7 linked regions of the Homo sapiens genome follow. The protein of the gene in region 1 purifies or fractionates together with the protein of each later gene. This does not show direct contact. Each region holds a gene or a part of one and is shown on either strand. Other genes may lie near its edges. The genes, in order: FOXP1, NFAT5, HOXC13, MYL12B, BNC2, TFDP1 and ZFHX4.

What was found.
Region 2: the proteins of FOXP1 (region 1) and NFAT5 purify together in Homo sapiens (affinity purification with mass spectrometry, with the first as the bait; one study listed by BioGRID). This does not show direct contact.
Region 3: the proteins of FOXP1 (region 1) and HOXC13 purify together in Homo sapiens (tandem affinity purification; one large-scale study listed by IntAct). This does not show direct contact.
Region 4: the proteins of FOXP1 (region 1) and MYL12B purify together in Homo sapiens (affinity purification with mass spectrometry; one large-scale study listed by BioGRID and IntAct). This does not show direct contact.
Region 5: the proteins of FOXP1 (region 1) and BNC2 purify together in Homo sapiens (affinity purification with mass spectrometry, with the first as the bait; one study listed by BioGRID). This does not show direct contact.
Region 6: the proteins of FOXP1 (region 1) and TFDP1 purify together in Homo sapiens (affinity purification with mass spectrometry, with the first as the bait; one study listed by BioGRID). This does not show direct contact.
Region 7: the proteins of FOXP1 (region 1) and ZFHX4 purify together in Homo sapiens (affinity purification with mass spectrometry, with the first as the bait; one study listed by BioGRID). This does not show direct contact.

Annotation. Positions count from the first base shown.
Region 1 is NC_000003.12:71,573,729-71,577,228, forward strand, and holds part of FOXP1 (forkhead box protein P1), read right to left. Parts: intron 1-3,500. UniProt on the Homo sapiens protein: Transcriptional repressor. Can act with CTBP1 to synergistically repress transcription but CTPBP1 is not essential. Plays an important role in the specification and differentiation of lung epithelium.
Region 2 is NC_000016.10:69,564,485-69,568,765, reverse strand, and holds the start of NFAT5 (nuclear factor of activated T-cells 5), read right to left. Parts: upstream 2,801-4,281; 5' UTR 2,465-2,800; coding exon 2,392-2,464; intron 272-2,391; coding exon 218-271; intron 1-217. UniProt on the Homo sapiens protein: Transcription factor involved, among others, in the transcriptional regulation of osmoprotective and inflammatory genes. Binds the DNA consensus sequence 5'-[ACT][AG]TGGAAA[CAT]A[TA][ATC][CA][ATG][GT][GAC][CG][CT]-3'.
Region 3 is NC_000012.12:53,944,438-53,947,044, reverse strand, and holds the end of HOXC13 (homeobox protein Hox-C13), read right to left. Parts: intron 2,046-2,607; coding exon 1,789-2,045; 3' UTR 501-1,788; downstream 1-500. UniProt on the Homo sapiens protein: Transcription factor which plays a role in hair follicle differentiation. Regulates FOXQ1 expression and that of other hair-specific genes.
Region 4 is NC_000018.10:3,268,633-3,272,132, reverse strand, and holds part of MYL12B (myosin regulatory light chain 12B), read right to left. Parts: intron 1-3,500. UniProt on the Homo sapiens protein: Myosin regulatory subunit that plays an important role in regulation of both smooth muscle and nonmuscle cell contractile activity via its phosphorylation. Phosphorylation triggers actin polymerization in vascular smooth muscle.
Region 5 is NC_000009.12:16,864,171-16,867,670, forward strand, and holds part of BNC2 (zinc finger protein basonuclin-2), read right to left. Parts: intron 1-3,500. UniProt on the Homo sapiens protein: Probable transcription factor specific for skin keratinocytes. May play a role in the differentiation of spermatozoa and oocytes. May also play an important role in early urinary-tract development.
Region 6 is NC_000013.11:113,629,753-113,633,252, reverse strand, and holds part of TFDP1 (transcription factor Dp-1), read right to left. Parts: exon of another isoform or gene 1,951-3,500; intron 1,631-1,950; coding exon 1,509-1,630; intron 134-1,508; coding exon 1-133. UniProt on the Homo sapiens protein: Can stimulate E2F-dependent transcription.
Region 7 is NC_000008.11:76,852,247-76,855,746, reverse strand, and holds part of ZFHX4 (zinc finger homeobox protein 4), read right to left. Parts: coding exon 1-3,500. UniProt on the Homo sapiens protein: May play a role in neural and muscle differentiation. May be involved in transcriptional regulation.

The sequences.
Region 1 (3,500 bases):
TTATGGACATAGATGTTATCTGAAGATGCCCCACCCCTCCTTCCCAAGGCTCAATCAACTAGCTTCTTTCCAAATAATTAAATGGGGCAAACTTTCTATTAGAAAATATCTACCATACATCACTAAAAAAAGGTCTGTCATTGATTCCCTAATGAAATATCAGTTAATTACTTAACCTTTCTTAATGAAATGATTAACATTTCAACAAACAAGGCGGAATGACTTCGCATCAAGCTGTAGATTACCAGTGACAGTGGTAACTATGTGTCCTCTACCATTGCGCCGTCTATTCTTTCAATCAGCTCCATGTTTCATCTTTTATAGAAATTCTTTATGCAGTAGTAGAGACACTCTACTTTTAAAATTTGGCCCATAAGAGTTTTTTTTAAGTGCCTCAGGGTCAGAACAGAAATTTTAAAAGTTTTTATTAGACGAATATCCCCAATGCTACCTAAACCTACAGAAAAGCAAACTGTGAAGTTCTAAACGTAAAAACAATTGCCAACTTTTTGGCAGCTATTAAAATAAAGCCACACCTAAAGCCAAAATGGAAATTAAAAATTAGGTGTGGGCATTATGGACACATTATTACCGGGTAACTTCAAAAGCCACATTATTAATACAGATGAAAAAATGTCTCAACAACTTTTATTTAAATAACTCTTTTGATCTTAGTGGTTAGATCTTTAGTTGAAGCCCTGAATATTTAAATAAGCCTCCTTAACATTTTATCTTCCTTTATTTCATAATCTTGTAGGATGCCTTCTTCTTAGGATTCTGGTTTCTTTATTTGTGTGGCATCGTTGGCTAGGCTATTTCCATCAATATTCGTGCATGCCCCATCACATACGATAGAGAATTTCCCAAGATGCTTGGGAAAATCAAAATACTTCTGCCAGCAGGGTTAATCCAAAGAGCAAACAGTTACAATTTTAAAATTAAGATGGAATACTCAGAAAAAAAAATTCTAGAGAGTCATCTGACACTAATTGGTAGCTACAGCATGACAACACCCATTGGGAAACATGGATGCAGGCAAGACAAAATTCAAAAGGAAATTATCTGATATTGACATTTGGTGAAAACCACCGATGTTCCAGGTTGTTCCTATCACGTTATTGAACTGTGAGGCTCTTGTTCTGCCTCTGTTTCTCTAAGTCTCCAAGGTTTCTTTTTGTGCCCTCCTGAAAAAGGAGCTCCGTTTTCTTCTCTTAGGTTTCACAATGGCCAACCAATTCAATTAAACTCTTAAGAAGGGTTGCAGGCTTTCCTCCAACTCTGATAATTGACAGGTCCAGTTTTCCCACTTTGGTGGGCATCAGGACCATGTGGGATGCGATTTAAAAACACAGATGCTGGCCCCACCCCAGATACGGCACATCCAGGAGTCGTGCAACTGTGTCTGTGTTGGGAACAACAGCTCTGCTGTGATTCCAATACTCGTGCTTGGTTAAAAACCACCGTTTTTCATTCGTAATAAAAATCCAAATACATTAAAAACAACACAGGATGGGCCTCAAGGTAAAATCAAAGAAATCATCAGTAAAATCCAAGTGAAGATAGAGATTTCAGTTCCACACATCTGAAAGAATAAATCACTTGATTCACAGGTCTCTAGCATGCATCAGAATTATCAAGGGAAGTTTGTTATAAATGTACGTTACCATGTCAATCAGCAAAAATTCTGACTCAAGGATCTGTATTTTAATAACCTACACACACACACATACACACACACACACACAGATACAGAGGTAGGTGAGCGAGGACCTCACTTTGAACCAGGCTGAATTAGGACCAACTGCAACCTCCCTTCACTTCAGACATGAGCATTCACTTCCATCTCTGTGCTCACCCCCAGGAGGGGAAGCCACCAGTGCCACTGGTCATCAGGAGGTAGGCACCAGGGCAAAAGAAACTCAAGCAAAACTCACATCACACCCTCCCCCAACAAAAGCTGCGGTCACTGTCCTGAGAGCACCAAGAATATCTTTTAAAAATGTGAGTAATAACAAAGCCCTGTATCATTGGATCCCTAAGCTCAAAGAACATATGTTAAAATATTACCCCTAATTCAAAAGCAGGGAACCTGGAGCAGAGAAAGTCACATTATGACTCAATTGCACAGCTGGGAGGGAGAAAGGACACCTCGGAAATTCAGTTTGATGCTAGAAATATTCTTCAGTGTCCTAGTAAACAAAGTGAATCACAAAATTAGCTAAAATCAGAGCATCTGGTAAAATGTGGATGTCCACCTGACTTACAAGTAATAAATAAATATATGTCCAAACATAAAACTCAGAGAAAATGTTTGTCCTAAGCAAATCTATTCTATTGAACATAAACAAGGCCCAATAATCCCACATTCAGATCCATTTTTCCCTCAGTAAATTGTCCTATAACATGCTAGCCTCTGATATCTTCAAACTGTTGAAATCAAACAGAATGACATGGGCTTTCTATTCAATGATCCCATTTCAGCTATTTATCTGAATTAGCAGCAGTTTGAGGAAATACACTCATCACAACATGATTCTGAGTATAGAGAAGTAAATAGTAAACAGAACACTGGAACACAACTGTGTATGTATTCATATTCCTTTTTAAAAAAAAAACTATTTTATTAAAAATACAATTTGGAAGGAAAGTGCAATTAGCTTTGCACAGGCACTGCTGAGATGTTCCCGAACACAGCAGACATATGTAAATATTTCGTGATATCAGTTCCATTTGAGTAGACCTGTCAAGATATTTACAGGGCTTGACAGTACTTCTGTCTTTAATTAAATTTTTGCCCAGATACTTTAATATAATTTAAATAGATTATTAGTTGTCAGAATCGAATATAAATTTTGTTTACGATTTAGTTACTTTAAGTACTCAGACTGAAGGAACTAATTTAACCCTACAACTGAGCAGCTTTAAGCATCAAGGCCAAACCACTAGAAAGCTCCCACTGCCCTTTGCACTCTACCAATAACCTTAAATTATTACAACTGAATTGTAAATTTCATGGCACTAAACTGAGCCCCCCTCCCCTCCTTTTGAAATAAAACAGCTTGGGGAGGGTCATGAGGAAACACCCATTTACACCTGTTCAGGTACTAGGTAGGTTCTCCCTTTCAGGCACTCGTTCTCACAGCGGCTGGCTAGATAGGAAACATTTTTTTCTCACTCTAAGTCCCATAAAATAACTACCGAACAAACACCTGTTGTGTACAAGGCAGGGCATGTATTAAAGACTGGCATCAGGGCATTGCAAAAAGAAAAACAAGCCTTGCAGAGACATCCACAAGCCAATCTGGTCAATAGATTTCACGACTGGGTAAAACAACAGTGCGTGCGAAGAACACAGCTTCTGGCACAACCTTCTTGTGAATGGCAGCTGACTTCTAAACAAGGATTGAAAAATGCCTTAGCACAAACTGACTGTAATTAATAAGAATAATTTATTAAAGAAACAAAGAACACTGTCTAATTGTCTTTCCTGACTGCCATGC
Region 2 (4,281 bases), on another chromosome or scaffold:
AATGTTTCTCAAAGCAGATAGAACAGCCAACAAGCACATCAAACGCAGCAACAAAACCCATTGAAACATTCAGCTGCTCTAAAAGAAGGATCAGACTCTTTAGGAGAAAACTACATTGTGTGAGTTTGCAAAGTTTCATACTTTCCCATTTAAACTCCATTTCAGAGAAAGCCTTTGCATACTAACACAATATGCTTTAAAATGGTACTTTGCTGACCTTCCAATAGTCCAGCTCTATGAAAATTCTGTGATGGGTGTAACTTCAGAGAATCTGAAAAACACAAAAAGCATTAGGTACTTTTTATGCTGAATGAGGAAAAAAATGCCAAGGATAGCATACATCTCTTATATAACTGCAATGTGTGTGTGTGTATATATATATATATATACACACACACACACACACACACACACACACATATATATATATACACACATACATTTTGAAACGGAGTTTCGTTCTTTTTGCCCAGGCTGGAGTGCAATGGTGCGATCTCGGCTCACCGCAACCTCCGCCTCCCGGATTCAAGTGGTTCTCGTGCCTCAGCCTCCCGAGTAGCTGGGATTACAGGCATGCACCACCACGCCCGGCTAATTTTGTATTTTTAGTAGTGACGGGGTGACGGGGTTTCTCCAAATTGGTCAGGCTGGTCTCAAACTCCCGACCTCAGGTGATCCAACTGCCTCGGCCTCCCACAGTACTGGGAATACAGGCGTGAGCCACTGCGCCCGGCCAACTGCAGTGTATTTTTAAGCGCTAAAGCCCATATTTGTGAATATATTCCCCGCAAAAGAGGCTGAATTGTCTCTACATTGGTCTCGAAGCTAAACTTAGATTTTCATAAAGTATATGTTTCATGGAAAATTATCTGATGATTACTCCCCAAATGGTGTTAATGTCTTGGCTATTTTTAGCACTCAATTCTAACACATTAGCCCTGCTCTAAGAATCATCTCTTGATATGTCTCTTTTTTTTTTGACATTCAAAACTACAATATTTCTAAAGTACCTCAGGTAATGTTGCCCGAAAAACATCCTACAGGATGGTGGCTGCCAACTAAAGTCATTGGAGCAACAGACAGTGGCTACAATTACTAAGTAGGACTCTGTGTACAAAATCAATGGTCAGTCTGTAAAGTCCAGCACCTTTCAGAGTAAACCATCTCACTCTGATTCACTTAAACAATTTAGATACACTAGTAGGAAGGTGAAGTCCCTTTTTTGGAGGGGGTGGAATAAGCAAATGGATGGATACATCAAACCAAAAGCAGAAGAAACACCTACATTTTTTTTTACACGGTGAAATGAATAGTTAACAACCCAGTTATGTCTTTTGCCCCCTCCCGGTGGTTTAAAAAGCGTAAAGAGCGCAGTGGGAATATTTTGGTTTTGAAGCCCCTTGCACAGGGAACCTGTTCTGACACATTCTTGTGGTGTCCAGTAAAGGAATTTCACCTGAGTAGGGATCAGCTCCAGTGCTAATATTTCAGATGCTGGGAATCCCCTGCAGGCCTTAGCCAAAAGAGTTCTTAAATGAAAAGTCTCTGCCTGAGCTCCCTCCCTGCAACCAGCCCTTGAACGGAAAAGCAGAGAAAATTCTCAAAGGACAGCGTCTGTGCCTGGGCTGGTCCTCCTGGGAGAGGAGAGGAATAAAACCAATCCAGAGAGGGCACCCCCATCTTTGTAAAGGAGAAGGGAGAAGTAATTAGAATGCCACGGAGGTGGGAAGAGAAAAAAAAAGAAAAGAAAATTCGGGCCCTTTCCATCGGGCCCTTTCCAGCAAGAAGATGACGAGGAAAGGAAGAACGCCTGGTCGAGGGGGGCTGTCCCAACATGGGGAGGGAGTGGACTAGGCCGGAGGGAGAGGGGGTGGAACGACGGCGCAAAAACAAGCTGGAAAGGGAGGAAAATGGTGACCCTGCACTCAGAACCGGCTCCAGGCCACGCCGCCCGCTTGGGGGCAACTTTGCTGGGGAGGAGGGTCCCGGTAAGAGAAGACGCGGCGCCCCGATCGCGGTGGCCCCAGCGCGGGGCCCAGTCTGGGGCCATCCCCGAGCCCGGGAGGCCGGGGCCGGCGGCTCGCGGAGCCTGGCGGGGCCGGACGGGCTGAGAGCGGCTAGAAGCGACCGGTGCCGCAGAGCCCCGGGGGCCGACGGAATCTGGGCCCCGAGCGGCCGGCGGCTCCGCGGGGGAGGGGCCGCCACTGCTCCGCCCGCCCCCTCCACCGTCACCCCGATCCCTTCGGCCTCTGCCCGCTCCGGCCAAAGAAGCCATGGGGGTCGCGGCTCAGCCGCCCCCGGCGGGACGGGGACCCCTCGCCTCCCCTGGCCCTGTCTCCCTGTCTCCCTGTCTCCCCGCCCCCACGCCCCACCCCCCACAGCCTGACTCACCTCGCGAGTAGAGGGACTTGGGCGATTCCAGGTCTAGGTCCGCGCTGAGCAATGAGATGAAGTCCGAGGGCATCGCAGCTCGACCCAGCCCGGCCCGAGGGCAGCGGGAGGGGGGGAGCGGCGGTGGCGGCGGCACCTCCTCTCCGGGACCGCGGGCACCGAACCGGGGGCGGCGACGCGAGGGCGGCTGCCGCTGCCTCCTCCTCGAGGGTAGTGACTTCCACTGGGCCGAGGACCGAGGAAACGATGGCGAGGTGGAGGGGGAACTCCACGGGGACTGATTCTCGGTGACCAGGAGAGGGGTTCAGGACGGGGAAGGGGAAGGGGGAGAGCCAAAGGGTCCGTTTCGTGTTTCTCCTCAGCGAAAACTGACGGTCGCCGCCACCGCCGCCGCCGCTGACAGGAATCTGAGCCCCGCCCCCGTGGGGCACAGCGCAGGCGCGGAGGGGGGTGCCCGGGAGCGCGGAAGAGCCGTGGCGGCCCCCGGAGGGCGGGGAGGCGCGCCAGGGAACAGCAGCAACATGGGCCTCGCTTCCTGCCGGCGCGGCCCGGGCTGCTGCTGTTCCTGAGCCGGGAAAGGGCCCCGCTGCCAGGGTGGGAGGGGGGGAGGCTGGGAGGTGGCCGCGCGCTGGGGCCCCGGGGAGGGAAAAGGTATTTGCAACGACCTGGTGGCGGCGAGCCTGAGGCGGCCGGCCCCGAGCAGAGCTGAGCGCAGGAGACAGAGCCGAGAGAAGCGAGAGGTCTGCGCGAGCCGGGGACGGACCCCAGAGGCCGGCGGCGGACGGGCCTGGCTGGCCCGGGGTCTCGCAGGGGACCGGAGTGTCATCGCCCGGACAGCCGCCAACCCTTTGGGGTTTGCATAGCAGTGTGTACAAAGGGACTGTCAAACCCATTTCTTAATTAGGAAATGGCAAACCGTATCCCAAAAACCTCGAGTTATTGATTTTTAATTAAAGTACTTTCTCCCCTAACACTCCCCTCCTACCTTTGGAGGCTGAAATTTTTTTTAAAAAAAACGATCTCTCTGATTGTGCTGGGGCATCCGGGTTATTCGGAGTGGGACATAGAAGACAATTAAAAAATTGGATCATGTGAATCCACCTGGCTGTTCTAGAGGAAAAACAGGTAAAAAGCAAACCTCAACGCTACTCTTCCAAACAGTTTTTCTTTTTTCTGTTTCTTTTTTTTTCCTTTTGGACTAGGCAAAGATGGAGGAAGAACGCATTTAACTGAGTTTTTGCTCTTGCTTTTCTGTTCGTGGAGCCAAAAGTTTCCGTTGCAAAAATTTAAAATCCTCACCCACACCGCAGAGCGTTTTCTGATTCTAATAGACTTCTGAGAAATTTTTAATCAAGTTATTGAAATATTACCTGGAGTGCAGGGTGTGCATCTTGGGAAGTAATTTTAATCTTGTGTGGAATATTGATGCCAGTAGCCACGTGGGCATGGTTTTTAAGCTATTCGAATGGTTTCGTTTTTTATCTACAAGGATAGTTACAACTCATGAAAATCAGTCTGTTGTAATATGTGTATGTGTATATATATGCACACATATATATACATACATATATACACACATATATACATATATATATAATTATAGAGACTTTTTCCCATGAAATTGAGCAGTTCTCGGGACTTGGAGTGCTAGGGTTGGGGTAAGAAGCTCTCAGCAAAGGAGGGCCCAGTACAGATGTCGCTGAGGCAAGGCCCTTTACAAAGTTTTACCTGTAGACCTAGAATTTAAACGTGTGTCATCAGAGCTCACCTATCTTTCATCTCAACATTTGATTCAGGTTGCCCAGTTGTCTTCACTGAATTGTGTGTAGTAATCAATCCTGTGAACATTTTTCTTTTGTCGGAGGTTCAGAAAGCTTTTCAGAGCCACCC
Region 3 (2,607 bases), on another chromosome or scaffold:
AGGCTGTGCTGACCCCATCCCAGCCCCAACTCCAGTCCTGAACTGGCTGAAGGTATTCGGGGCCCTCTGGGGCAATAGAGCACCAGGAGCCTAAGGTTAATTCCTCACTGCCACCGGCTGCCGCATTTACCTCATCCAGTTCCCAGCTGGGATGCTACTTTCTCAGTACCCAGAACCAGATCTGAGCCCCAATTATTAACCGAAGTAACCATCAATGTATTTTTGTCACTGCCTCCAGGCCTTTCAGTCACCAATTACGTCTTTCCTTCCTCAACAAACACTCATCTGAGTTGGACATCAGGATGGAAAGTTTTCTCCTATATAGATAGTATAGATAACCCAAAAACTTAAGTGGAGCAAAACAAGGGTTTGGAATCTACCCAGCTGGGAGCAATGTCTATACTCCTCCCCCTGATCATTCTGGCTGAGTCAGGGCATAGTAGACTGTCCTGAAGAGCCAGTGGACAGAATAGACTTCAGAAAGAATCTGAGCAATAAAATCAAGGCAAAAAAAGATATTTTATTTTAAAAACATGTTTGTGGGTTTTTTTCCTTTTTGCATTCAGTACATTGTCATTCAGACATCACAATACTATATACAGATACACAACATTTTTTAAAAAAGCCTATTCCTGATGAACATTTCAAAAGAACACTGTTTTGTAATGCACCAGTGGGAAGGGAAGAGGCAAGGGGCCCCCACAGCACCAAGGTGGCCTTTGAGGAGGGAACTGTTAGGCAGCATCTACATCTAGCTAATTGAGGGCCAGATCTTCTTGCCTCTTGAACTAGATCCTCTAGCTTTCCTCTGGAAATCAGTAAAGGTGAAAGTGTGAGGAGTCATTCCTGGGCTAGTGCCCTGATGGAAAGGTGACTGGACAGGGACTTTGTTGAGGGACCCACTCTCCATCCCCTTGGAAGAGATGTTTATCCTTAGAAAAAAGTTCTGCTTCTGTACCTGGACTAATCCCCAACCTTACCACCTAGAGAGAGAGAGAGGAGAGAGGAGCCCTATTTAGCAGCGTGGCTGGAGTCTTTGTCCTCCTTGGATTTCCACATGTTGACTGAGAGAGCAGAACAGGGGAGGCAGTGGGGCAAAGGCAGCTCCCACCTGGCCCCAGGAAATGCAGTTTCTTGGTTGGGATGGAGTGTAGGGGCTGCGTCAATGCTTTTACGGAATTCCAGCTTTTACGGAAACATCCATACTCCAATCACGCTGCCAGGTCCCTAATAATTATCATGAGTATTAACACGACTTTTAAAATACGCACAGAAAATCTTTACTGGGAAATCTTGCCTAAGGAGTGCGGGAGGGACAGCGAAGGAAAGTATGAGCTGGACAGATCCTGCTCCGAAGCTGCGCCCTTAGGGAAGGTCCTCTAAAAGCCTGGTCATAGGATGAGGCAAGAATTGGGGCCATTCGGGATTCCCCAACCCTGCTTTGGTTGGAATGATTGGGCTCTGCGCTGCCACCAGACTTTCTGGCAAGGTGAGCGCAAGGAGGAGTAGAGGTCGACAGCCTTCCTCGCACGGCCCACTCGGGACCCATTTCCAAAGCTGTTGAAGCCACGTGAGTCCCATCTGGATGGGGGTGGAGGCTGGGGATGGGATAGGGAGTTGGGGATGGCCCAGCAGCACGGCCATGGAGCCTCTCTGCCTCCGGGCGGCGCGGTTCTTCTCTTTCCTTAACATTAAATACTCTTCTGCACCCGCGCAGCGTCTTTCCGTGGGTTCGGTTATGGTACAAAGCGGAGACATAAATAGATGGGGCAAGCAGCGGGTGGGTGGTCAGGTGGAGTGGAGATGAGGCGCTTTCGATTTGCTGACCACCTTCTTCTCTTTGACCCGCCGGTTCTGGAACCAGATGGTTACCTGGCGCTCAGAGAGGTTCGTGGTGGCGGAGATGCGCCGGCGCTTCTCTTTGGTGATGAACTTGCTAGCCGCGTATTCCTTCTCTAGCTCCTTCAGCTGCACCTTAGTGTAGGGCACGCGTTTCTTGCGCCCGCGCCGGTAGCTGCTCACCTCGGGCTGCAGGGGAACCACGTCTGCGGGGAGATAAGGCAAGCGGGAAGAAGTGAGGCAAGCGGCTGGACTGAGATAGAGGACCCGAGGCTGCCTAGGCACAGAGTTCTGGCAGGGGCTCAACGGGGCCAGAGGATTGCACTGCATAGTGAAGCTCCCTAATGCTTTTCATTTCTGTTATTTTAGCAAGACCACAACTATGATGAGGCCACTGGGCTCGAAGTTTAAGGGAGGGGGCGCCAAAAACTCAGTAATCAAGACGATATTTTAATGCAATGTTTAAAAAAGCAAAACGAATACAAAAACATCCATGATGAACAAAATATCAATTAAAAAAATAAACATGGGTTCGGTATTACTGATTTTCTTTTGTTTCAGGCCCCAATATGGCTCTTCACAGCACTCAATATTAGGATCCTTGTATATTTAGAAGGGACCCTCCAAATTCCAGCCTGGCCTGCCATGCTTGCAGAATTTCAGATATTCAGAAAAATCCCTCCTTCCTGCAGTTAGATCGCTTGGGTCCTTATTAGTTTATATTCTGCCCCGTTGCCAGAGGAAGACATTCTGTTGTATATTTCAGGG
Region 4 (3,500 bases), on another chromosome or scaffold:
TCATCTTTCTAGCTATCCCTGCATTTCCCTTTTCCCTTGACAAGACTTTCAGAATACCAGTCTAATGCTGAACTGTCTTCATTTTTCCTTCTGTTTTTTATTTTAGAGATGGGGGGTTTCTCACTATATTGCCCAGTCTGATCTTGAACTCTGAGGCTCGAGATCCTCCCAAACTGCTGGGATTACAGACATGAGCCACCGTGCCCAGCCCCTTTTCTCTTCTTCCCAATCATTCCTCCATTCTCCGTAATATGGCTTTGGTAGTAGCTTCCAACACTCTACTGAAAGCCACCAATAATTTAAATGTCAAGCAGAAAAGGCACTTGTCATTTCATTTTTAATTTGCAGTTTTAAATAATAAATAAAACACAAAAATACCATCAGCTCTGGAGTTAGGAAGTCCTGAGTTCAAATCTCAGCTCCACCGTTACTAGCTACATATAACCTCTGAAAACCTATGTATCTGTGAGCCTAACAGCTTTCAGTGAGTTCTGTGAGTCTTAGCAAATAATCAAACGCAAGGGTGGTCTTAGGACATCCAAACTTGAAACTGCTGTCAGAAATGATGGTCTTGCAGACTGTTTCCGTAACTTCCTGCAATGTGAAAAACAAATGACTAGAGAGGTCAATGACTGAGCAAGGGGATTTTGGACCTAAGTCTCCAGGACTTCTGGTATTGGGATTTTTTATATAAATGTATTGTCTACTTCTATTTATTCAAGCTAAAGAACATCCCACAGGGTGTTTTGAAGCTTGGCTTAGTGGTGTTGTTTTGAAGTACACCAGCCTTACAGTCCTTACTCTAACATTCCAACTCCTTACCCTCCCCATATACAAGTCCTAAATAAATGTTAATTTTCTTCTCTTCCTTGTAACTTAGTTTGTTATTTGACCTTAGTTATATCGAAGGTTAAATCAGAGACAGAATGTAGTCTACTAACAAGGCATTTGATTATGTTTTCATTCTTCTTCACATACCAAAACTTAGATTAAGGTTCATTCTCATGCTAAAAATTTTGACTCAATTTCTTCAAGATTAGTCAAATACATCTGAAGGCAAAAATTATTAGTTCTCTCTCAGTATCAGCAAGTAATTTTTGTAATCGAGTTATTTAGAAAAAGTTCCAAAAGAGTTAAATATTTATTTTTAAAAACGAATCAGGCCGGGTGCGGTGGCTCACACCTATAATCTCAACACTTTGGGAGGCTGAGGCCAGAAGACTGCTTGAGCCCAGGAATTTGAGATAGGCCTGGGCAACAAAGTGATACTCTGTCCCTACAAAAAATTTAAAAAATTAGCCAGGTGTGGTGGCACATGCCTGTGGTCCCAGCTACTATTTGGGAGGCTGGGGTGGAAGGATCATTTGAGCCTGGGAGGTCGAGGCTGGTGAACCGTAATGGTGCCCCTAACCTCAGCCTGGGTGACAAAACGAGACACTGTCTCAAAAAATCAAATCAAATCAAATCAGAATCAGTCAATTGTATCATGCTACTTCTACAGTTAACCCAAAAATATACTATATTTAAACATTTTTGAAGTTTAGTCCGAGTTCTCTAAGAAGCTGATACCAAGACAGAATGAAACACCCAAGGATTTTATTAGGGGAAATGCCTGTGAGAAAGAATAGGGAGTTAGTTAGCCTGATAACTAGAAGAGCCATCACCATCTGATGGTGACACCCAAGAGAAGGAAACAGAAGGCAAGTTGATGGAAGAGAACAAAAAACAATTCACTAACTGGTCCCAATCAAAATATGTTAGAGCAGATATAGGCTCAATGTAGTAATACTATATTTTAAATTTTTTTCATACTTCATTTAAAAACAGTGGTACATTTGTATACGTATATGGTACCTATAAAAACTACACATACAGTATCAGCTGAAAAGTGAGGCAAAGTTGCATCAAAATAATCAATCTGAAGGGAACTCTGGCCCCCAAAGAAATTACCACCCTCTCTCCTTCCCTTCTGAAATAAGTATCTTGGCTTCCTCCACCTTCTCACTTCCCACTCACTTTTCAACCCACCACAATCTGGCTTTCTGTTCTCTACTGCAACTGCTTTAATTGCCAAATCTGGTCTAAATCTTCTTGGATCAGTCTACTGCATCACACTATTTTATCCCTCTTTTCTTTGGAGAGACAGCCACTGTTAGCCTGGTGCTCCATAACAGTAGAAATGAACTTTCCCAGGTGGAAAGGGTCCCAACCTTGAAGAACTTACGCTCTAATCAGGAAGACTGCTAAGCATTATATTGGAAAGACTGATTATGTAAAATGGTGTATTTGACTTACTCTAGCTCAGTTCTCCTATTTCTAAGATTTCCTCCTCCATTTTCCTCTTAGATGTTTATCTCCGTTTAAATATTCATGTTTCCCAGTATTCTAGCAGCACATGGTTTAAAGTTCTTTTCAGTCTTCATTCCTTGGATGATCTCATCAACTTTCACTGTTATGACAATGCCTGCACCTCCTAAATCCGAACCTCCAGGCCTGACCTTTCCTTGGAGCCTTGGACTCAAACATCCAAATGCCTGTGAAAGGCACCCATCTGGATATGCCACAGACACTCATAATCAACATGCTGAAAACTCAATTATCTCTCCCCTCCTGAACTTTACCATCTTTGTTTCCAATCATCTACCCAGCAGCCAGAAACCTAGGAGTCACCCTCCCCAATCCCTCTCCCTGATGAACCAAGCCCTGCCTCTGAGAAATATTTCTCAGAGTTGCTCATCTTCCTCATTCCTCTGTCATCACCCTAAACTGGATCCTCATTATCTCTTGTGTAAAATATCTCTATGGCCTCTTCACTATCCCCTTGCCTCTCGGCTCTCTCAAAACTACCCTTAGTTTTCTAGGCAGGGCTGTCTAAAACATGAATATGACCTCATCATTCCACTTTTTAAAATCTTCTTTGGCTCTCCACTTTCTAAAGGATAAAGTACCAAGTTCCTAAACATGGTGCATGAGTCTTCCTTTCCCTACTCTAGAATGACCTTTCCAGCCTCCTCTCTAGCCATTCCCTGCTTTGTACTTTTCCTTTAGCAACACCAAACTGCAAATGTCCCCAAGGTACCATGCCACATCTTATCTTGTATATCTTTGTTCCTGCTATTTTTCCAGCCCCAGTTGCCCTGATCTACTTCTCTGCCTTAGGAACAGAGAGAGAATTAAAGATCTACTCAACTTACAGCTACTACCATTTATTAAGTGACTCATGTGCTAGAAACATTATGTACATTAAATGAAACATGCCCACCTGCCAAATGAAGAAACTGAAGGTCAAAGATATTAAATAATCTTGCCCAAGGTCACCTAGTGGCAGAGCTAGGATTCAAATCCCATTTGTTACAGGTTGTTTCTCCTTGTATATTTTCTACTTCCTACTAAATACTCTTCTAATTATTTTGAGTTCAGCACAAAATTTTTTAAAACTTGCAATGCCACCAATATAATTCAACACTGATTTCTGAGCACCTACAATCCTCTAAATTCAA
Region 5 (3,500 bases), on another chromosome or scaffold:
ATGCTAGAGGAAAATCAAAGGAGGAAAAGAGCAAAGGAAAATTAATAGGCTACATTATTTTTACATAGATTTTAAAACATATATATGACATCTATGAAATATCTTTTAATTATTCTCTAGATATGGAAAAAGATAAACTGCTAATAGATCCATTCATATATATGATTTAGTCAGTACTAAAAATAGTTATGTTAGTCACCAGAAATACTGCTTTTGTCCTCTGAAAGATTTGAAAAAAGAAAATAAGACTTTCCATTGCTGTCAAATGTATTCAATTTTCCCCTCAAATGAAGTTTGGATGAAAACAATGTGACTGACAAGCCCCGCACAGGCAAATCTTGGCAACCCTCAACTCTGTCTATCTCCTTGGCCTGTTAAGCAAAATTCCTTCACAAACTGTTGGTCTTTGCAATAACTCCTACAAAGCTCATTACTGCCAGCGTCGGCCTATCCCCCATGTTGTGCATTTATCCCTGGGATGCATATCAACATGTGGCACATGTCCTTGACATGCACAGAAGAGCTGCACCCCAGGACAGCAGCATGCACGACAATAGTCTCGACGCTTACTTCTTTACGGTTGCTGGGATGTAACCGAGAAATCTAATAACTGTGACAGTGGGGCCTTTCGGTTTTTCCTTGCCTTTCCAGACAGTGAAGCTGCACAGACACTAATGAAAGGTTAAATGAATAGGAATAGTTGACAAGAGGTACAATAAAGAAGGAGCTTGGTAATCCACAGACACTGAGCAGAGATCCTTGGCTCAAGCAGAGAAAGGACAGCACATCGTCGAGTCACAATATTTAAAACAGCTTGCTATACACAGAGGCTTTTGTGTCTGGGTACACGTCTGGCTTTGGACTGAAAAAAAAAAAAAAAAAGACACTGAAAAGGAATTTCAGCATGGGGCACTTTGGCAAATGTAAGGTCATTATAAGAGAAAAATGTTTTGTGTAGGTTGTTACATCTTTGTAATAAACACAAAAAAGCAGGGACTATGAACTCATGAACCACAAGTTCCAAGACAATACTGTACATTTTGACAACTATTAAATACTGTATCTAGAAGGCTGGCTTGATGCTATTCCCACTGGTAAGATACATACACAGTGAGTCATTTAGGAGTTTCACATTCTGCCTTCCTTATGGAAGAATTCCTGATACTCATCTTATTAGAGTTTTATAGTCAAGTTCTAGTCTTTAGTGAACGTAATTTGTTACAAATACAACCAAAACTCTCAAAGCCACCTTCTACTCATTGAAAAACTTCACAGCAGTTACTAGCAATTTGTGAAGTACCAGGCAAACTTTTTGTAATTGTAAGTGATTGCAACTGTGAAATGGCCTCAGCTAGAATTCTTAATTATCGAACCTATTATTTTTTGGTGCCCTTCTCACTATACCTCAAGGGAAGGTTGTATTCCTTAGGAAGTTTATTTTAAATTATAACAGCAAAACAATTTAAATCACCAAGAGAAAAATACTCTAGAATGTCAAAGAGAAAATAGAGCAAAAAGAACAAAACTGATATTGTTATGTACGGATATTTTTAAAGGAAAAAAGTTATGACGATAGCAAAAACTTAAAGAATGATATATCTGTAATATCATTCTTACGCATATTGAGTTAGAATATAGGTTCTTACGCATTGAGTTAGAATATGGGTTCGTAACAAATGGTAAAAGCATACTGAGAATATATTTCAAAACAAGGGAGGCTCTTTGAACAGCCAAATTAAATTATAGCTGAACTCTTGAGTGTACTGAGGGTTCTAATAAGCAACAAATAAAGACTTTTATTGGCTAGCAACATAATGAGAGCTACTGTGCAAAAGATTTTAAGAAGGACAAATCTGGGTAGTTTATCTCACTGGATTATATTATTTACTTAAATGATAAATATGTTTGTCTAAAGTAATGCTCCTAAAAACTAGTATATAAATATTAAAGTGCAATTATGATCAATGACTCTTTAACATAACTGTATCACAAATGTTAATGGAAAGTGGTAAATATGAAATTAAATGACAATTATTGAATGTAATATCATTTAAATCCTATTTCTTTAACTTATTTTTTGATCCATAATAAGTCAGGTTTATAAATAGTTTAACATTTATGCTTATAACAGGAAGCATTTATTTTAAAGAAAATTTCTCTCTGGAATACAGAAGTTGTATGTAGAACTACTCCAAAACCATCATTTACAGAAAAGGGGTTGTCCTTCATAAACTAAAAGAAGTTAACCCACTTCTCGGTGATTTCGTAGGAAGCTACTTTTAATAGAACTCTGAAGACTGGCCTCCTAAAACGAGAGTAACTCCCTCAGTTGACAAAAACTACAAACAGTAGTTAGTCAAACCAAAACATTTAAAATATAGTATCTGGTTGCATTTTGCCTGATCTTCAAATCACCTGAAAGGCAAAAGCCTAGAAAGCTTAGCTGACGCCTTGACTGTTCTTGTAGAAAGTTCTTTTGCTTCTGTCACTTTTAAAAAAAAAAAAAAAAAAAAAACCATAATAGCACCTCCCAGCCTCAACACTGAGCCAGTATTCATTACCTACTCTTTTTGTGCAACATTCTGATGGCCAGAGTGTTTTTTAAACCTTAAGTATATCTAATAAAATCATGAGGCTCCCTCTAGCTCTTCAGAGGGGATTTTACTAACCAATGATACTATATAATTCCCATCCAACAGGAAAGATTTGAGGAGGCTACCTCCCCTTCCACAAGAAATGTTTTCCACTCTGTTTCTTGTAAGGATGTAGATGGTAAATGAGACCATCTGCTGAGTAAATCAGAAAGCGTTGCTCCTTATATATTTATCAAGTTAAGAATCTATAAACTGCTTCCAACCTAAGCTTTATGTACAGAATTCTATAGTGAAACTTTAATCAGATTAAACCATACGACATAAATTTACCCATCCTGTCTAAAATTAATTTTAATGTCAAAAAACAACAACATGTATGAACATCCACAGAAATTCAAACTTGTGGTCTGGTCTCAGTTTTAAAAATCTACATTTAAATGCAGAATCTCAAAAATTCAGGAAAAAAACACTTCATGAACTGTATCTGTGGGGTTTATATAAAACAAAGATGCTAATAGTATAGAAAACATTTTCATGTACCATAGTATTTATACACAATACTAGTATAATGACTTTTTTATTGTTTAATCTTACCTGCAATTTAGTATTGGATATTTGGGGATCGTAGGTTGTTTAGAAGACTATAAATAATACAGTTGAAGTATGCCATCTTACAATAACCATAAAAGCCACATTGTCAACTGGCAAATCATCTCAAACAAGTGAATGTGAACAGTACTAAATTGAACTCCTCATATTCACTAAGGCCATCTTTCAAATACTTAAGGAATATTTAAAACCGTGCTGAACCCTTAACTGTAAAATTAAAAGTAAAGGAAACCACTAACTTCAAGTCATCATCTATTTTGGACTCCCTTAATATAAGAAATATTCCCAGGAACAACA
Region 6 (3,500 bases), on another chromosome or scaffold:
ACTGAACTCCGCAACCAGCTCGTCTGCCACTTCGTTGTAGGAAGTGGTCCCTTTCCTCTGCACCTTCTCGCAGACCTTCATGGAGAAATGCCGTAGGCCCTTGCCATTCTTCTCTCCTTTCCTGTTGCGCTTCCTTCAAAATACAAAGGAAAAGAGAAGCGACTGTCAGCCCTCCTGAGGATCAGCCTGAATCGAGGAATGCTTTTACCTGAGAGCTCTAATGAGCTGCACAAAAAGGGGCCACGTCCCACGGGCGCAGCAGATCCAACACGTGAGCAGGCCAGGACCCCCTAGCCCCAGCCCCCAGGCCCAGTGGTCCTGCAGGTCAGAAAGCGAGTGTCTCCCCAGCAGGCTGCACCTCTAACCTTCCAAGCGTCAGGGAAAACGGGAGGCGTCCCCAGGACCCAAATCAGCATATGGGAGATGTGCCGGTACACCAAGCACCACTTTTCTTTTTGTTGTTGTTTTTTCTTTTTTGAGACGGAGTCTCGCTCTGTCGTGGGCTGGAGTGCGGTGGCGCCATCTCGGCTCACTGCAACCTCCACCTCCTGGGTTCAAGCGATTCTCCTGCCTCAGCCTCCCGAGTAGCTGGGATTACAGGCACGTGCCACCACATCTGGCTAATTTTTTTGTATTTTTAATAGAGACGGGGTTGCACCACGTTGGCCAGGATGGTCTCAATCTCTTGAACTCGTGATCTGCTGGCCTCGGCCTCTAGGATTACAGGCGTGAGCCCCAAGCACCACTTTTCTAAAGAGGGCAGCCAGAATCAGGAACTATGGGACGTTTCAGTGTAAATTTGGGAATTCTTAGGACTAATTTCAGCAGGCTGTAATTTCATACAGCTTGGGCTGTGACAGCCGCTTGACAACAGGTGCAAAGCACTAAGTGTGCTTCAGGTCGAGGGAAAGCCCAACTCTGTACACTCTGGTCAGTCCCCACATGGCGGGAAAGGCCACCTGAGGTTCCTAGCTGGTGAAGCTTTGGGCACCAACACAGGCAGGCTTTTGCAGCTTTGCGTGTGTGTGTTTTTAAGGAAAGACACAGCTCATCAGATCTTGCTTTAGTGGAAGGAGCAGCTCTGGCGGGACCACCCGCGGGGGCCGTAACCCCAGGGGCAGTAGAGGCTGAATTCAGGGGCAGTGGGTGAAATCCATCCCACATGCTCCCAGCACAGACGAGGGAAAGTCTCCGAGGTCCTGTGGCGAGTACGAGGCCAGCTTCTCCCCGTCTTGGCCAAGAGCTGCCAGCCCTTCAGAGAGCACCCACTACACCAGACACAAAGCGGGGTGGGCGGTGCCCAGCCCGACTTCTCCATGACCGAGGCAGTGCGCCTCGGCTGCACACCTGTGCAGGCCACGATGATGGGTGAGTGTGATTCGGAGGCTGGCGTCAACGCGCGTGGGAGCCCCATCGCACGACTGTGTGACACACGTGGCCCAGGAGAACGTGGAGGTGCGAACCGCAAGCAGTCCTACAACTCTAAGGGTCCAGAGGGAAGTGCTCACCCGGCAGACCAAGGTGAGGAGTCGGAAGGCTGGTTCTGAGAGGCAAAGTGAGTGCTGGGGGTGTGTGGGCTTCCTACCACCAGGGTGTTTGACGCTGCCGGTCTCTGAGGCGTACCAATTACCTACAGTCGAAAAAGACAATTCAGACAGTCAGTCCCCTCCCACACGGCGAGGGTGCCATGCCCACCATCTGTTCGCTATCCGCAGCCACTGCTGAATTTCCTTAACCACAGTGAGCAGCCATGACGGAGCAGGAAAAACGTCCAGCGGTGGACGCTTTTGTCACGGTGACGGCATCACCCCACCGGTTCTGAATGTGGCTCATCTTCCTCTTGTCAGTCACAGGCATCTTCTCCAATTAGACAAAAGCAACAAGAAACTTCGGACGACCCAAGCAAGCAAGAACAGGACAGGGCAGAGCGTGACCCCCAAACCGCACACAAGGCGCTAACGGTCAAGTTTAATGAAGGGGGCGGCACAGAATTCCACACAGGGCACTTGAGCACGCTTCCATTTTTCCCTTCACCCTTTTACTTCCTTTTAGTGATATGGATGAGGATGAAATTGTATCCTTCTGTGGTACTAAAAAGAGGCCTGAAACAAACCAAAAACAGCTCTCAAAAGACAAAAGCACAGGCAGGGTGACAGCAGCTGCTCCTCCAGCCCAGCAGGGTGACAGCCATCACCTGGTAACCCTGTGCCCTGGGGCCCTGTCTGGGGGAACCCCTGCACCCACAACGGCGTCAGGCAAGGAGGGAGGGCCACCAGCACTGGGGGCGGAAGGTAGGGGCTCCACACGCCCCTGGGGCTCACACACCTGGGCCCCTCTGGGGGGAACCACCAGAGGCAACGCCAGTGTGGACACTGACCCACCCGCCCCACCCCACAGCACACCTGAGGGTGTCAACAACTGTCTCTCCCTTCAGGGACATGCTGGCTGGTCTGACTCTTGACAAGGTCTTACCACTTTAGTTCCAACAATGAATGTTCGAGTGTGAATACCTGGACACCCTCATACAGGCAAATACAACTCTGACTTTTCAAAGATCTTGTGGCACGACTCTATCTAAACTGGAAACACTATTTCTCAGTAAATGTTAAATCATTCAATTCACCACAAATCAAAGTGCCTCAGCGATTATACTGCTTGTATGGACATGCAGTTTCCGTTAAAGGGATTGGAGCTGGACACCTGTATGCTGGCGGGGGGGCTTCATGTGGCCGATGCCCTGAGCTACTCTAAGCTGGGCCCCCCCAGCTCCCCTTCTTACGGGGATAAATGCATCACCTGCGGTGGCCCTGGGAGCAGCTGACGGGGACACTTTCCAATTATCCCTAGGCCAGATCACCTGTCAGCTCCGGAGAAGAAAAACATTTCAAGGACTGATCTTTTCATTGACACTCATCTCTCCGATGATCAGAGACTCATCAGAGTGCGGCCTTCTGTGGATCACCAGGCCATGAAATCAAACAAGTGAATTTTCTGCAAAATGAAGCCATACAAAAGATAAATCTCCTGGGCGTGGATAAATGTCCTGTGAAACTTGTTTTGTTCAATACGCGTGTGTGTGTGTGTGTGTGTGTGTGTGCTGCTGGGGCACTGGGCCACGTGGGAGATCCAAACAGCTGACAAAAGGACCCTGCCACTCAGGCTGCCTGAGAGCGCGCTGGCCCCGCACGGCTTCCTACGTTGAGTTCAGCAGATGCCATTCTCCGGGAGTTGATGTCAGACTGAGAACCCGCCAGCTCCACGCCAGGCAGTGCTGGCTGGCTCCGCGCATACCACACGCACAGGTACAGGGGGCTGGAGAATCCCACACACGATTCTAACCCACCTCATGGGTCCACTCCCTTCCCCAGGAATCCCAGGACCACGCAAGGCACTGGATCTTGGCCCCAAAACAGATGCCGTCACCGTGCCGCTGTCCTCCAGGCAGGAGCAAACCTACTCACAAAGAGTGGACTTACAACGAGGAACTGACTTACAACGAG
Region 7 (3,500 bases), on another chromosome or scaffold:
TTGAGTTGAAGATTGCTCATTTGCGTTCGAAAACGCTTGTGACCCGGCCGATCATTACTTTTGGATTTAAAGGGATTGCTGGATCCGAATGGATTTGGGGAGCTCGGGTCCGCTATGCTGGACGTTTCGCTGCGGTCGGCGTTGTCATCCGGGTCATCTGTGATGTAAAAGCTTTGGTCGTGGTCGCCATCTTTGTCATTGAAATGGATGGATGGGCTTGTGAGAGAAAAGAGAAATTTGTCATCGCAGACCTCCGTGGTAGGTGTGGTTGCAGGTTTTGGCAGAGTATCCAGAGTTTTTGGCTCTTTGGGAGACAAAGCCGGTTTCACATCTCCGGAACTTCCTGTGGTGCTTTCCATTTCAGTGTTTCCCTCGTCTCCGGTGGTGGCGTCACTGATTGCCGTATTAATCGATGAAGTCTCATCAAAATCGGTTTTATTTTGATCATACCCAGCCTCAGCAGGAGGGGCATTTAAATTCTCTACATCCTCAGAACACTCTGCTTTAAAAGAAGAAGGGCTTAAAAGATTCTTCGGTGACAGCTCTGCTGTTTTACTAACAGGTGTTGACACTGTAGAAGCCAATTCATTCTCACTTGATAGATCAATTTTAGTTAATGGCAAAGATGGGTAATCAAAATAGATGTATTTCTGTGGGCTTTCTCCCCCATCTTCGGTGGATATTAAAGGGCTTGGTGGCAAGCTGTAACCTGCCTGCTTTCCTTCATTCCAGTGCCGAGAGCGAATGTGGCTTTCTAAGGCCGACTTTGCTTTAAACAGGGCTCGGCAAAACGGACACCGTTTATGAGACTGTGCTGGACCCACCGCCCGGAACTGGCCTTTCCTCTCCCGCGCTCGTGTATTCTGGAACCAGACTTGCACGACCCTTTTTTTCAGCCCGACTTCGCGGGCAATATGATCAAGCATTTTTCTGGTAGGATTGGAATCCAGCAAGTATTTTTCATAGAGTATTTCCAGCTGTTCCGGGGTGATCGTGGTTCTCAAGCGTTTATCTCGGTGTTGGTCTTCACCGCTATTCCCTCCTTCTTTTTCACTGCAATTATTATCTTCTTTATCGTCTAGTTTCCTTTTTAGGGAAGCAGCAACCGTTGTGGGGGCTGTGGTGTGGGAGGAACTGGCCTGAGGGGGCATTTGAGTGAGGGAACTGCCCAGCAGTTGTCCAGTCATCAGCGGATTGTTGGGGTCAAATATCATGTAGGGCATGTCCATGGGCCTTTCCAAGAACGGAGAGTGAAGGAATTGGTTTTGAGCAGCAAGGAAGTGCATGTGCTGGTGTTCCTGCCAGAGTTCCAGAGTTGGGAAGGCAACTGTACACTGATCACATTGGTATTGTAGTAACTGTGGAGGTAGACTGTTCTGGAGAGACGTCATGGAAATTTGCAGTGGACTGGAAGGGACCGGTGTTTGAGAGGCCGAGGGAGGTCTTCCGATAAGTTGGGGTTGTTTTGGTGGCTGTGGCTGTGGCTGTGGCTGGGCTGTGGATGCCTGTGGTGGGTCCGAGGAAGTCGATGCTAATGGCAGGGCTGGTTTGGTGCCTTGAGAAGGGGGAGAGGGGTCACTCTGCTTTGGCTTTTCTGCGGGATATTCAGGTTTTGGAGAAGTCTTCTCAGGTTCTGGTTTGGGTGATGGAATCAGGGGGGTGCTGGTCCCAGAGCCAGAACTTGCTGCAGGGGCAGCAGCGTTTTTAGCTGCATCCGTTTGGCCAGACACTGTGCAATGCTTGTATACCACTTGATCAGTGGCATCCATGGAGTCTTCTGTTTGGCTTTCATCTTGGGCATCATCATCTTCATCCTTGTAACACTGCTTTTTCTGATGCGTAATCAAGTCAAAGATCCTGGGGAAAACCACATTGCACTTTTTACACTGGTACTGCATGTTGCTTGTTCGAATGTACCGTTCATTAGTGAGTTCTCTTTTTTCATTATCTTTTGTTTCTGCTTGATTCTCATAACTCTTTCGTGCTTTCTGACGAGCATTCTGGAACCATACAACAATAACCCGGGTAGGCAGATTGAGAACAGTGGAGAGTTGTTCTATTTCATCATCTTTTGGGTAAGCGTTTGTGTCAAAAAAGTCTTGCAGAACCCTAAGCTGGTAGTCAGTAAATCTCGTTCTAGAAGACCTTTTACTGAATGATGCATCAGATTTGTAATGTTCTAAAGAGGTGGGCTGTGGATCAATTCTGATATCTTCTAAAACCGTTATAGGAGGGTTACTGAAGTTGTATGGTGAATCTTTATTTCTCTGTCGTTCCTTAAAAAGCGTATTTCTAAACCAGTGTTTGATAACTTTTTGGGAGAGGCCAGATTTCTCTGCCATTTCCTGGATCTGTTCTTCACTTGGAGAATTATTAATGTCAAAATAAGCCCTCAGGATTTTTAGCTGATCATCTGTAATTCTTGTCCGTGGGCGTTTGAACTGAGAATGTCTTAAGAAGTTGGGATCTAATCCGAGCTGCTGCTGGCAAAGTTGGGTGAGGTCTGCAGAGAGTGCGTCCATCTGTGGCAGCTGCAGGGCAAGCTGGGGAGGAAGCGCAGGGTGTTGCACAGGTTGCATCATAATGGAAGGAAAGAGCGGCAGGTCCAGAGAAACCGGCAGTTGGACCTGTGGAGGAGCAGAAGGTGGAGGAGGTGGGGGGGGAGGAGGAGGAGGAGGAGGAGGTGGTGGTGGTGGGGGAGGAGTGGGTGGTGGAGCTTGCAGAGGAGTAGAAACCGTGTTGGGGATCTTTACAGGACCCATAGAAGAAGGCTGTGGAGGAGCCGGAGGCAAGGGAGGAGGAGGAGGTGGCGGGGGCGGCGTTTCTGGAGAAGATGGAGAAATTGGATAAAGCTTGTCATAGGCCTCCCTGTATTGACGAGCAAATTTTTCTAGCGCTGCATATGGAAAAAATTGCCCATGTACATGTTCTTGGTGACTCTTTAAAATAAGAACATTGGAAAACAATTTACCACATGTTCCACATTCTAGTTTGTCAGTGTTTTCGCCTTCACCACTTTTGCCCTTCTTCTGTACCTTCTGCCTGTTTTCGTTATACTGAATGACCAGTTCAAAACCAAAGTTTTCCAATAACGCTTTGGCAGCATTTCCTCTGGCCCCTGAAGCTATTCGGGGTGGTGGGATGGATGGTTCCAAGGATTTTTGCTTCTTTGTGTCTTTGCCTTCTTTGAGTCCTTCACCTTCACTTATAAATTCCTGCTTTGGTTTTTCTGGCTTTTCAGAAATATCTTCTGCCTCCTTATAAGATGGCACATCCTTCATGATTTGGCAGTCTGCACTCACTATGTTACTTTGCTCTTGTTTCAATAATTTGCTTGCCTGCTGTTGCTGCTGCTGCTGTGGAGGTGGTGGCTGCTGCTGTTGTTTTTGAGGCTGCAGCTGGGGCTGTGTGGCTTGGTATTGTTGTGCTTGTTGCTGTAGTATCTGGAGTTGAGTTTGACCAACGTGATGTTGGGTTTGAATCTGCTGCTTTAGGTCTTC